Linked DNA regions of Homo sapiens. The protein of the gene in region 3 interacts with the protein of the main gene of each other region in a pairwise test. Each region holds a gene or a part of one and is shown on either strand. Other genes may lie near its edges.

Evidence for each region.
Region 1: the proteins of LPAR3 (region 3) and CPLX4 interact in binary tests that used the Homo sapiens proteins (3 or more experiments, as listed by UniProt).
Region 2: the proteins of LPAR3 (region 3) and PGRMC2 interact in binary tests that used the Homo sapiens proteins (3 or more experiments, as listed by UniProt).
Region 4: the proteins of LPAR3 (region 3) and TFEC interact in binary tests that used the Homo sapiens proteins (3 or more experiments, as listed by UniProt).

Annotation. Positions count from the first base shown.
Region 1 is NC_000018.10:59,312,150-59,315,649, forward strand, and holds part of CPLX4 (complexin-4), read right to left. Parts: intron 624-3,500; coding exon 536-623; intron 1-535.
Region 2 is NC_000004.12:128,281,314-128,284,813, forward strand, and holds part of PGRMC2 (membrane-associated progesterone receptor component 2), read right to left. Parts: intron 1-3,500. UniProt on the Homo sapiens protein: Required for the maintenance of uterine histoarchitecture and normal female reproductive lifespan. May serve as a universal non-classical progesterone receptor in the uterus.
Region 3 is NC_000001.11:84,816,707-84,820,206, forward strand, and holds part of LPAR3 (lysophosphatidic acid receptor 3), read right to left. Parts: intron 1-3,500. UniProt on the Homo sapiens protein: Receptor for lysophosphatidic acid (LPA), a mediator of diverse cellular activities. May play a role in the development of ovarian cancer. Seems to be coupled to the G(i)/G(o) and G(q) families of heteromeric G proteins.
Region 4 is NC_000007.14:115,954,264-115,957,763, forward strand, and holds part of TFEC (transcription factor EC), read right to left. Parts: intron 2,531-3,500; coding exon 2,416-2,530; intron 380-2,415; coding exon 323-379; intron 1-322. UniProt on the Homo sapiens protein: Transcriptional regulator that acts as a repressor or an activator. Acts as a transcriptional repressor on minimal promoter containing element F (that includes an E-box sequence). Binds to element F in an E-box sequence-specific manner.

The DNA of each region.
Region 1 (3,500 bases), on a different chromosome or scaffold from region 3:
TACCTAGAAAGAGCTCAACCAATGTGAGCTATGATTATTGTCCTTGTTGTGTATTTACATAGAGAAGTTCTAGAACCTTTAGATAAGTTTACATTAAAATGTCATCTATAGGTATTAACTCCAGTTTTTTTTAGCAACAGTGGAAGTTCATAGAGGTTAAGTTAAAAACTGGAATCAAGTTTTTATGAACTCCTAGTTCAGTGCTCTTTTCACTATATCAAACATTTCAGTTATGATTAGGATATACGTGTGTGCATATATATATATATATCCTGAATATGTGTGTGTGTATATATATATATATATCTCCTGAATATATATATATCCTGAATATGTGTATATATATATCCTGAATATATATATATCCTGAATATGTATATACATATCCTGAATATATATATTTTTATATATATATATATCTTGAATATATATATATATATTCATATTCAGGAACATGATCCTTTGTGGATAATCAACCATGACTTCCCATTTATCATTAATTAAGAAATGATTAGATGTTTCCAGAGTGTCTTACCTTTGGGAGCCTGTATTTTTCTCTGAGATGAACTCTGAGGCATGCCCTTTCTGCCTTTTTCTGTGTAAATGCAGCATCTCTTTCCATCCTAAAAGTTAAAGAATAAAGGATCAGAAGGATACAGAGAGCTAAGGACATTCCTGCCCGTGCTCAGAGGAGCCAGACACAGGGTTACACCTTCTGAGATGCCACTGCTGGCAGACACTTGGGAACTATGGGATTTTTTTCCTAGGTCCCCAAACGTCTGCCTCTCTGTTTGTTACTCTACTGTCATAACTTTCAGTATATACCTCTAAGTCTCAAAGACAATTTGGTCCTAGGAATCTCTGTGTGATGCGAACCAGGAGATTTTTCCTAACATGGAGTTTTCCGTGGACTGTTCAGCCAGGGACCATGAGCCTCAGAATCACTTGGTGCACCTATGACAAATGCAGCTTCCTGGGCCTGATCCTAGCCCTGCTGCATCAGAATCTCTGGGTGCAGGGGAGGGGAAGCTACATTTTTAGCAAGCTCCCCGAGTGATTCTTACGCAAACTAAAATAGGGCCACAGTGTCCAGAACCAGGCAGTTCTTTGAAGACCGTTGTTGTTGGGGGATATAATATAAACCTGTCTCCCTTCATTGTTACTCTCTCCAGACCCCAATTTAGGTACGGTATTTTCTTCCCAGTTTGGAAGGAGGTAGCCCCAAACAAGGCAGGGTATGTTTCCAGAATGTCAGACTGGGGTCCTGCTGTGTGAATGATCTAATTGAACTCATGATGTTGCTGGTTTGAAATGGACGTTCTTGCTAATGATGATTCAGACAAAAGCAGACACCTTTGGGAATGTCTGCAAGGCTCACAAGCACCACCACCCGTCCCTGCTGCCCACAGAAGTCCTTTATTGGTAGCTGAATTTATATACATGGCCCTGCCCTCTGGCTATATTGGGTTAGACCAAGCTCCGTAAATGAAATCTCTTTGAAAATTTGGGAATGGTACTAAGAATGACAGACACTTGCAGTGTGGCTGTCAAAATAACAGATGAACTTGGTAGCCATTGGCTGTCATTTTCCACTAACCTTGTAGTCTGGCTGCTGAGGAAGAACAAAGCAGCCATGCCCAGATAGAAGCAATGGTAAGAGATAGGGAAAGAGTGCTCGTGGCCTCTCAACAGCCTTCTGCTTTCTGGTTTAGGCCCACGTGAGGCCTGATGGGAATTCTACTTGTGGATCTGGTGAACTATCTTTGCATAAAGCATTATCTGCTTAAAACAAATCCCCTGTTTTCATTTTCAGGTGAAAACTGGTTTCTATGTCTTGACTCCGAGTTTGTAAATAATCTTAACCATTATACAAAAAAACTGAGTGTTAAGGAAGGAGCTGCAGCAAATGATCAGTTTAAACTGATCAAAGGCCCTGGGCTCAGGTGCTCTCTGAACTCATTTCCATCCACAGAATGTCAGGTCTGGAACGGGCATGAGAGAACATCGGGTTCAACCTTCTAGTTTTGGAGAGGGACATCGAATAAAGTGACCTGTCCAGGAGATTAGCGACCTGCGGCATGGACAAGCAGCAGACCTTTTCTCCCCATGTTTTACTGTAAAAACTTCCAAACATACAGAAACGTTGAAAGAATTTTGATATCAAATCCATCTAGATTCTACAATTGGCATCTCACTGTACTTTTTTTTTTATCACACCTATTCCTCTCTTTATCCACATTTTACTTTTTTGATACATTTCGAAGTTGCAGAAATCAGTAACATTTCCCCCAAACTCTTCAATATGCATGTCATTAACTAGCGTGACATGTTTGTTTATAGTTTCTCTTTTCTTCTTGTGAAGCAAAATTTGTATCCAATGCAATGCACAAACCTCTGAAGCACACCATTCAATGATTCCCCAAAAAGCACACACCTGTGTAACCCAAAAACCCTCTCAAGATAGAAAACATTACTCTCACCTGGGAAAATTCCCCCATCCCCATTCCTGATCAAGGCCTACCCCCTAGCCCTAGAGGCAACCACCACGCCTTTTCTACCATAGATTGGTTTTGCCTGTTCTAGAACTTCATAAAATGGAACCATACAGTTCATCTTTGTGTAAGGCTTCTTTCACTCAGCATAAAATACTTTCGAGATTTAACCTTGTTGTTTTATGTACTAGTAGCTGGTTCCTTTTTATTGCTGAGTAGTAAGTATTCTATTGTTTGCGCAAATACAATCACCATTTGTCTAGTCATTTTTCTGTTAATGAACACCTGAATTGTTCCCCATTTGGGGTGACAGTAAGTAAAGCTGCTAAGAATATTGTTCTAGATTTTTTTGTGGACATATATTTTAATTTCTACTGGGTAAATAACTAGGCATGGAATTTGCTGGGTTCTACGGTAACTTACTGGGATGCATTTAGTTTTATAAGAAACAGCACGACCTTTCTCCAAAATGGTCATACTAGTTTATGCTTCAACAATTGAAACAAGAGTTCTAGTGGTTTCACATTTTGGCCAATATTTAACATTTTTTGTCTTTTTGATTTTAGCCATACTGGTGTTTATGGAGTGCTACTTTACTGTGATTTTAATTTTTTCCATTTCCAAGACAGCTAATGATATTAAGCAGCTTTTCATGTAATTTCCAGTAAGATTTTCATGTACTAATTGGCCATGTATCTATCTTTCTGAAGTATTTCTTCAAATCTTTTGCCCATTGTTTTTGCTTTCATTATTGAGTTATAGGAGTTCTTCATATTTCCTAGATTCCAGTCCTTTGTCAGATATATTTTCCAAATATATCCTCTCAGTCTGGCTTGCCCATTTATTTTCTAAATGGCATCTTTTAACGTATAAAAGTTTTTAACTTAGAGTTGAATTTATCATTTAATAATTTTATGGTCATTGATATGGTCATTGCCAATCTGGGTCATGATACAGAAATCTTCATCTACTTTCAAGTTGCAAAGATATTCTCCTACTTTTTTTTCT
Region 2 (3,500 bases), on a different chromosome or scaffold from region 3:
AATGTCAGTAAAGTATCTTAAAGAGGCAGCTTTTTCAAATTGACACTAAAATGATGTTTGGCTAAAATTCTTATATTGTTCAGAAGCATAGGATAGTCATCTATAGCAAAAACTTAAGGAAATCACTAAAAGGATAGAAATAGAATACATCCAAATCAGTAGAGGAGAGAAAATGGAAGAAATAAAAAAATCAATCAGAGAAGGAAAAATAGTGGGAAAAGAGGCAAAGAAAAGTAAGGTGAAGAGAAATCACAAAATAAGATGATAGAAATAAACCTAAATATACCCGTAATCACAAAACATATACACTAATTAAGCTATTAAAGGACATAGTGCTAATATTAAATGAAAAAATCCAGCTATATGTCATTAATGTGAGAAAAATAAAACAACACAGATTGACTAAAAGGGATGGAAAATGAAATATTGTGTTAATACTAATCAGATAAAGGCTGAAGTAAAATCTGAAAATCAACAGTGTTAAAGAGGTTTCTAGTATGATCAGTTCTAGATCTACTGCTAGATGGCTTTGCTCGGTATAGAAAGCATAGTAACAATCTCACTTCAGAACATTCTCATACCCAATCTTTGTATGGCTGGCTCTGTTAGGTTTTTGCTTAAATGTCGAGCCCTTTTTCTCGAGAATCTAACATAAAAAAGGTAACCTTGCTTAGCCACTTAATCTAAATAAAGTCCTTTGTTACCCTCTATTCCCATTCTATTAATTTCTTTTATAGCATATTACAGATTATAATTACATACTGAAATCCTTGTTTACTGCCTCTCTTCCTTAATAGACTATTAACTCCATGAGGATAGGAACACATCTGTTTTGAAGACTCAGTTAACTCCATTTCTCATCTCTTAAGCTTTTACTGTAATGAAATCCAGGGAAGTCTTCCTCAGTATTTAAAAATGGAGCTGAAATCCTATTATTAAAGATCCTGAGACTGGATATAGGCTCCAAAAGAATACAGGAGTTATACAGTCATGTCTGTCTTGGGTGCACAGGGAAAGGAGTGGTCTATGTCAGAGTGTTGAAAAAACAATTAAAAGAACTTGAATGGCTAATTCCAGATGTTATTAAATCTACTCCTTTCTTCCACCCTGAATAACAGCTTCTGGTTTCAAGCTATCCTTTTATAATATGCTTTAGGATTTAACACAAATACGATTCCCTCAAAGATTAAAAACAACGGGATGATGTTGAATTCAGAGCCAACTAAGTAGTTATAATAGAAATAACTAGTAGAAATTTGAGCAGAATATAAAAAATCATCAGAAAACCTAGCTAATCCTTTTATCTTACTGGTAGGTAATAGATGCATATGGGCATTAGCCCAAACAACAAAGCCAGTTGGCTTCAAAGCAAGAAGCTGGGATGAGAGGTGGGCAGTGGCAACTTTAGGACATCCATGAAGAAATAGGTAAGATTGGGTCCAGTTTTTATGATGCAACTCTGCAAACACAGAGTTTCCAATTCTGCAAACTAAAGTGTTAAATAAAAGTGAACAAATTGAAGATAAAGTTTAAAATGGAGGAAAAACACTTCAAGGTACATGTGTTCTTTTCCCCAACCTCCTAAATATTAGGCATCTCATGGGGTTCTTCTTACGTGACTTTTTTCTTTCAGTGGAATTTAAAAGGTAAGTTGGAAAAAATATAGCTTTGGTATATGTCAAAGAATACTCCACCTGGAATAAGGGAGCAGCAGTATTGCAAGGTTCAACAACGCAAAATAAACTATCAAAAAGTCAAGTGTATAATTTTTTGCCATTCCAAAAAAATAAAAGCACTGTTTTGGTAAAGTTCCATTGCAGTAATATTAAATAAAATTGTTAAAAATTATACTAGCTGTTTGAGTCTTCAAAACTTATGATTCTGTAAACATGTGAAACTGAATAGACTATGTTGTAATACAATGGGAAGGATTGAAGCTATGAAAATCTGGATTTAATTTTTAGTGTTGCCACCTACTAGATATGTGGCTTTGGGCAATCTCATAGGGCTGTTTGAAAATTAGCGATACTAAGCTCAATAAATGGAGTTTCCTCCTTCTCCTCCTCTGACCTTTAGAATCAGTGTTGTTTTCAACAACTCTCTGGGAAGACAGAAATACTCTAAGAGGTGCCTTGTTAGTGCAGTAGGTGGCACGCCAGTCTCACAATATGAAAATATACAAAGTGCACTGTCCAAAATGGTAGCCATGGTGGGCTCAGCACTTTATATGTGGCTAGTGTTACTAAGGAACTCAATTTTTAATTATATCTAATTTTAATTAATTTACTTTTAATTAGCCACCTGGGGCCACCATTTTGGGCAGTATAACATAAAGCCATAAAAGCATTTTTTTTTTTTTTTTGAGACAGAGTCTCGTTCTGTCATCCAGGCTGGAGTGCAATGGCGAGATCTCAGCTCACTGCAACCTCCACCTCCTAGGTTCAAGTGATTCTCTTGCCTCAGCCTCCCCAGTAGCTGGGATTACAGGCACCCACCATCAAGCTCAGCTAATTTTTTTTTGTATTTTTGTAGAAACAGGGTTTGGCCATGTTGGCCAGGCTGGTCCCGAACTCCTGACCTCAGGTGATCTGCCCGCCTTGGTCTCTCAAAGTGCTGGGATTAAGGCATGAGCCACCGTGCCTGGCCTTTATTTTTTTATTTTTATTTTTTTTTTTTTAGTAGAGATGGGGTTTCACCATGTTGGACAGTCTGGTCTCAAACTCCTGACCTCAAGTGATCCGCTTGCCTCAGCCTCCCAAAGTGCTGGGATTACACGCGTGAGCCACCGTGCCTGGCCGAAAGGCATGTTTTTTTTGAGGCTTTAAATCCTTGGATTTATGGGAACCAGGGAAGAGTATAAAGAAAAACAACAGTAAGATTCTCTACAAGTTTATCACAGGATGCAGTTTACTAGAAATAGTATAGATAAGCTGTGTGGTAATATCCATCTGGATTTATTAGACATACATGTAATCCAAGCCAATTTACCTAAAATACCTAGACCTCAGACTCCCCACCTGTAGAGCAGGAATACTTACCAACTTCACTGAGGAATTATGGAGATAAAAAAATTAATGGATCTGATATTGTGGGTGCTTAACGAATCTGGTTTTCTTTCTCCTCCTGTATTCAGTTTTTTACATGACCAAACTTTCCTCACCTGCTGGCCAAGTGCCTGATCTGTTACTAAATTTAATATTGGCAAATACAGTTAATGCCAACTGTTTGCCAAAATGTGTATACTCCACCAAATTACACTGTCAATATTTAATTAAGAGCCTGAACTTTAAAAATGTATGACTAAAAATAAACACATGTTTAGCATTATGGAAAAATCTCACAAAATTTAATCCTAAAACCATTATTGTGAAATTAGGGTAGATATTGGCTAGGCATAGAAACTAACAATTACTGCTTCTGAATTATTCTGCTACAAAACTGCTTAATTTATGAGGATGAAAATAAAAATTAAAAGCAAAACTGAACTTGTATCTGTTTTA
Region 3 (3,500 bases):
AGGATTGTTTGAACCCAGGAGGCGAAGTTGCAGTGAACCGAGATTGTGCCACTGCACTCCAGCCTGGGCAATAGAGCAAGACTCCATCTCCAAAAAAGTAAAAAGCAAAAAAATATATAAATATCTTCATTTACTTGAAAAGAAGGCTTGCATCCAAACTCTGCCTGTTGTACTCTTCCATTTGTTTTGTGTGATCCTCTGCAATAGCCCAGGAAAAGTCTGTGCTTTCTCTATGTGATGCCCTTCAGGTTTTTGAAGACAGTTAACGCTTTCTGTCTTTCTTTAGCCTTTTCTCCAGGAGACACATATTGAATTTTATCTACTAGTTCCCAGATGCGTACCTCTGGACACTCATTCATATTTGTTAATGCTGAGAATTTTTTTTTTAAAGTAATCTGGGCATCACACAAACTCTTCTTTGAACCCTGCTGGTTCCCAGCAGTCATAGTCTGAGCATTGAGGCTAAATACTCAAAAGACATTCCTTTTAGTTTTTTTCTTCTGGATTTATGTAGATTGGTAGGCAACTAAGTGATAAATATTTTCCAGGATCTATCACACACACACACACACACACACACACACACCCCTCACTTTTAAGAATTAGTCCAGTTACCTGTTTGAATGTTCCTGACATCTCCACATTCTCTATGAATTCTCCAAGACTACAGAGCCTAGGGTGTGGAGGTGCGTGGGGAGGACTTATGTTTAACTGCTAACATAGAGCAAACCCCCTCAAAGTATGAACTGTTAGATAAACTGTGCATCTCTTCTGAGATGTGTTTGGAGAGAGATCTTGGCCTCCAGGTGGAGGAGGCTTGGAACAGCTGTTTCCCAGGGTCACTGCCGGGGAGCATCTGCTTAAGGCAACATCTCTGAAGTACCTGTTCTCTAGTTTAGCCACCTAGTATGTTTGTGCTGTTCTGTCGAAGAACATTTGCCTTTTGTTGTTCATTGGAAACAGCATAAAGATGAGATCAGCAGATTTTTATTTCTCTTCTGACACCACGGCCAGCCAATCAGCCAATATTTTTGTTGGATTCCTTTGGATTCCTTCCCTCCTTCCATCTCTCCCTCCCTTTCTTCCTTTCCTGGCCAAAAAAAAAAAAAAATCTTTCCTTTAACAACCAAAGAATGATGTAATTGTGATATATGTAGCTTTATGGTCAGACATGACATACTACGGAGGGGCCCTTGAAGTCCAGAGGTACCCTCCTACTCCTCCTTCACTCTCTTCAGTAGTAAGATGCTTTACGGGCCACAGCTGAGCAGCCTAGCACAAAGTCAGGAACATGGCTCTGGTGCCAGGCTGCCTGGGTTCCAATCCTGGCTCTTCCACTGATCGGCTGTGTGCCTTTGACCACATCACCTAACTTCTCTGTGCTGTAGTTACCTCAGGCTTAAAATGAGGGCAGGATTAGTACCATTCCCAAGGGTTTTTATAAAAATTAAATGGATTAATTCATATACAATGATTAAAACAGCATCTGACACAAGATCATTGCTCAATAAAAAGCTTATAAGGTTTTAATTGAATGAATTATTTTATGTAATTCAACGAAAAGGGAAACTATATAGGAATTATCGTATTATGACAAAAAGCATCAATGTGAAGACTTGTTTGGAGTGTTGGGTCACAAGATTAATTCAAAACAGAGTTTTGTGCTGGGGAGAAAACTTTCATGACAAAAAAATCACGTCATTAAAGAACAAAAAATCACATTAAAAATTCACATCTAATAATATGAGAGTGGGGCTTTAGGAAAACATTGGCAATTTATTTTTATCCTTTTTTGAGTGTGTGTGCGATGCACGCATGCCAGGGGGGTGTATTATATTATTCAAACAAAACTACAAAAAATATAGTGAACTTTAAAAAATAATGCTTAAAAGAATAAAAAAAATAAGAATACCTGTCTACTTACCACCCAACTTAAAGAACTTAAAGAAACTTCAAAGAACACTATCGTATCTTTAGAGCTTCCTGGGTGCCCACCCCAGGAGCCCTCTCTCCTGTTGAGATAAACGTATCATACATTTTGGGCTAATCATCTTCTTGCTTTTTCTCATGGTTTTCCAATATACGGATGTAATGTTAGACATCATATTGTTTAGATTGATCTGTTTTTTAACTGTACCGTGATTTGCACTGATTTTAGTTATCAATATATTGGAATTCACTTCTAGCATCTTATTTTGTTCTTTGTTTCATTTTTTTCTATGTTTCGCTTTTTTCCCCCTCTCTTTTTTCGTATTGAGATCTTTTATTTTTTCATTTCCTTTGGTTTCATTTTCCCCCTTCCACTGGTTTGGAAGTTGTAGACTCTATTAAATCTCGACTTACATGTTTAACAAAGTATAAAGTTGGCCAGTGTTTGTCCTTCCTTCCCGTCAGCATAAGGACCTTGGAACACTCCCACCTGGATTTTTTGGAATTATACAATTTCATATAGAAAGGACTCTTCACATCAAAGTTGGTAGCTATAGCTTTTGATGTCTGGCTTGTTTAGTTTTTCTCTCTTGACAACACAGTAACCCTCTCTTGAGAATAGCAGAGAGAATAAAAATGTTACTGTTATGGGAAATACAGATCACTGGAGCTGGGTGGGGCCTTAAAGATTACCAGTGTTTTTCAAACTTTTGACCAAGCCAAATGAAAATTAAAGGAACTTTTAAAATAATGCATATTCTCTGGTCCCACATCAGACCCAATAGTCAGAATCTCGGGTGGGACACAGAAATCTGCAGGACTAAAAAGTTCCCTGGGTGATCATGATGCACAGCCAGTTTTGTAACCTATTTCTCCATGCTGACCCAAAATGGTTTAATCAAGCTGACTCCATAAGCAAAATTATAGATGCCATATAGACTTAGCAAAAAGCCATGGAAAAGAGAGAGGGAGCACAGTTTTTTCAAATGAGAAAATAAGCATCTCTAGAGATGAATATCTTCAATTTGCATTTGGGAAAATGTTTGAGCACATACGCAAAAATAAATATACAAAGAGTGGCAGCAAAAGTAGTCTACAGGCAAGGCATCCACAGTCCTCCTCTGCTGCTCTTTGGCTCGCCGTGCCAGGAATGCCTTCTCACCTCCTAATCTGAGGTCTGCTTTTCTTTCTAAGCTTAGTGCATACTCTGCCTTCTCCACTGGAGCTCTCCCATCTCTTCCACCACAGTGTCCATTTCCTCCTCTCAACTCCTGTAGCACTTTCTACCTATAGCATTCACGTGGCACTGGGCACATTACCTGCTTAATTCCTCTCTAGCATTTCCTGAGAACTCTGGGTCAGGCAGTGTGCTCAGGGCTTTACATGCACTTCCCCTGTAAAACTCACAGCCTTACAAAGTTGCTACTTTTATTATTATCCTAGACTAACATACAATAAATTTGAAGTTTAGAGTAGCTCAACAGTTTGTCCTAGGTGCACAAGCCAAAAAATAGAAGTTATCATTTGAACTCAGGCCTGACTTCCCCATGCAAACTCTTGAGCATTGAGCT
Region 4 (3,500 bases), on a different chromosome or scaffold from region 3:
GTCACTTTTATCTCTTTAAACCTTTGAGTCAGTGAGTCACAACAGAATTCAAATGTAACCAAATGCACTCATCTCAGTCACAGGCAGCCTCCTTGGAAGTGAATGATCAAGGAGGGAATTCGAGATGTTTCATTTTGTGAAAATAGATAGCTTTTCTGAGAGCTCACATTGTTAATATTTCCCAAAATAAATCAAGTTATATGTGCAATTAATTTTGGCCATCTGACATGAAAATACTTATGGAGTATAATAAAAGACCACACACCTTAACCTCTATGCATTTCCTTTTGCATTAATTTTATATGGAAAAATATATACTCACTGAGGTTGTGGTTGTCCTTTTTTTGTCTCTCTTTTGCTAAAGCTCTAGTGTCAGTTTCTGATCAAAAGAAAAATAATAAAAACCATGCTTAGTTCTACCTTAAAACCCCTCCAGGCAACATAATTCAGAACTCCTAGGTGAAAATAAAATATTATTTGCTCCAAAACGGTACAATAATATTTTTGATGCAAATATTCAGAAATTTGGAAAACAGTACTCTTCAGTGAAAGGCAATGGCAAAGCTTTTAGGCTCTGGGATAATAAAAACTGAATTTATTTTCTGGCCCTCCATTTAATAGCCATGTGATCTATTGCCACACTTCTCTGTGTTTCAGGCTCTTCATCTGTAAAATGACTATAATACAATACCTACCTTAAAATCATTGTGATAACCAAAAGAAATATAGTATACAGAAAATATAGTATTCAATTATTATTTTCAGAATTTTGAGATTCAGAAATTATTCCAACCTAAATATTTTATTAGTAATTATTATTTCTACATCCCAAGAGTTGCAACTCACTATATTTCTCAAATATCCATATGAAACACTTCCACACTTTCTTCCAGTAAATGGCACTTCCCTGTATATATGGTGTGGTTGTATTTATATGACCATCAACCTCCAGGATGGCCTACAATGATTCTTAATTTGTAGTATTCACACCTTGTAATTCCCTCCCACATTAAATAAATAAGGCTGACCTGTGAAGCCACTAGCTTGTTGTGGAAATGACTAGTATGGTATCCAAGGCTAGATAATAGGAGAAATTTTTAACTTTCACATTGGCATCTCTTTGATCTCTAGTTGTCATGTCATGAGGACACTCAAGCAACCCTATGAAGAAGTCCAAGCAGTCAGGGACAAAGACCACTTGCCAACAGGAAGCACTATCCTACAAGAACTTGAGTGAAACACCTCGGGAGTGCATCCTCCAGCCTCAGTCAAGTCTCAGGTGTCTGTACTTCTGGCTGACATCTTGACTACAGCCTCATAAGAGATTCTGGTCTGAACGAATTCACTAGGCCACTCCTGGATTCTTGATGCTCAAAGACTGAATGAGATTATAAATGTTTATTACTTTGAGATTATAAATGTTTATTACTTCAAGTTGCTAAATTTCAGGGGTAATTTGTTGTTATGCAACAAAAATAATACAATATTATTAGAGTTATAGTTTAAAAAGTTAATAAGATAATACATTTTATTTAAATGTATTTATTTAAAACTATAGTCATTAATTTTAGTCTGAATAATTTGGATGCATAGACATTTTTGAATTATTGATTGAGCTTTAAGAGTGGTCATGTTGTATTTATTTAAAATTTTACCGTGGTGTTTGAGCTCCAAACCAAAAGTTTATTGCAGAAATCTCAAGTGAATTTATTTACTTTATTCTTACGGAGGATCTAACACTGGACTTGGAAGTCAGGAAACCCTTACGTTGATCCAGTTCTGCCTGTAATCAGCTGTTACACCTTTAGGAAAGTAGCTCCTTTGACCCTGGGTTGATTTCCTCATTTATTTTGGAAGAATTTGACTATGCTCCTATAATTTGAGTTGTAACAATTAAAATAAACTATTGAAAACTCAGGGTTTATTTTCAATTAAGAAAATTAAATGTGAGTCTATCATGAAATCCATAAAACAAGCTAAAAAGAAAAAAAAATCCAATATTTGTTTTTTATCAAATTCTGCATACAAAGAATAGACTAATTTCTCTAATTTATTATTTCACTTTGTAACCATGTTAATAAATGGCATCTATTTAATATAAAAATGAGCCTATGTTAAATGAAGCTGTCTTTTATATATGTATGTATATATGTGTGTATATACATGTATATATGTATGTAAAACATATATGTGCATTTGCTCAATTTCCAAAATAATGAATCAATTCAGTCAAACTATAAGTTATTTTAACTTACTGCTTGATTATCATAAAAAGAAAAGATGAATTTACTGTCTGCCTTCTTTTTTGTAACTGTTTTGTTATACTTTTAAAATCCTAGTTAGCACAATATATGTCACTCATAACTTATGTCATTAATAAAAATAAAAAGGGTAAAACTATAAAAGCAACATTACCTGTAATTTCTCTTTTCATTGGTAGACTACTTGGACAAGAAGCACTTGTAAGCCCCATGTTAATTGGTGAAATTCCTTGTTCACCGCTATACACATCCAAAATACTTCCAGATAACTTGAGAGGAAAAAGGAAGAAAAGATTAATAAAAACCTTCTGTGCAAATTGATATATTTAGTTATATATATTACATTTTCCACTTTAAATGTGGCATTTTGTTAATAATAATTTCTAATTTGGGGCATTTTGCTTTTAAACAAGACGAGTATGCATTAACTTTTTAAAAGATGCATTATAAAATGCTTACAGATAAGATGCGCTGAAAAAAAGTTATATGTGTTTAAGCAAAAAGAGAAATCAGTTCATGTATGAAGGAAAATTCCTATTAATATTTACAAAGTTATGGAAGTTTGATCCAGCATATGACCTGGTTATAAATGGATGTAATTAAAAATATTATTTTGGACAAAAATCAATATACATCTTTGCAAAGCTGGAAAGTTCACCACATCCCACAAATTAGGTATAACGGTTGAACATTTTGGGACCCTTCTTAATACCATCAGTGCTACCAGCAACTCACAGTCAAGAGGTGTTTTACACTGTTAATTAAATGAGAAACTCTTCCCTTCCTGGAAGGCATACTTTTTCTCATTGTACACTTAATGTTCTAGATTATTATAAATATCCCAGCTGGTAACCAAAAGTAGTCTAAAACTACTTTTGCCTCTAGTGAATATAGGGTACATCCAATTATAGCAACACTGCAATTCTTGAACTGCTTCTTGGGAACAATTTTTCAGAAAACCTAAGTTGCTTTATACACAATTCAAAATTGCACCAATTCATTATTCAAAGTGTGCTTATTGATTTGATTTCCCAAGAAAATAACATTTAAGTAATATTCATATTTCAGGTTAATACTCATTATTCCAGAACAAGCTGCATTCACTATGCAGGATTTGAAATTTTAAGATATTTCCATTGTGAGTATCTTTCTTCCACTTCTGTGCAATAAACCAAGAGCTGAATAAGAAGCAATTTTTTTTATTTCCTCAATGACTAGGAATAAAACATATAATAAAAC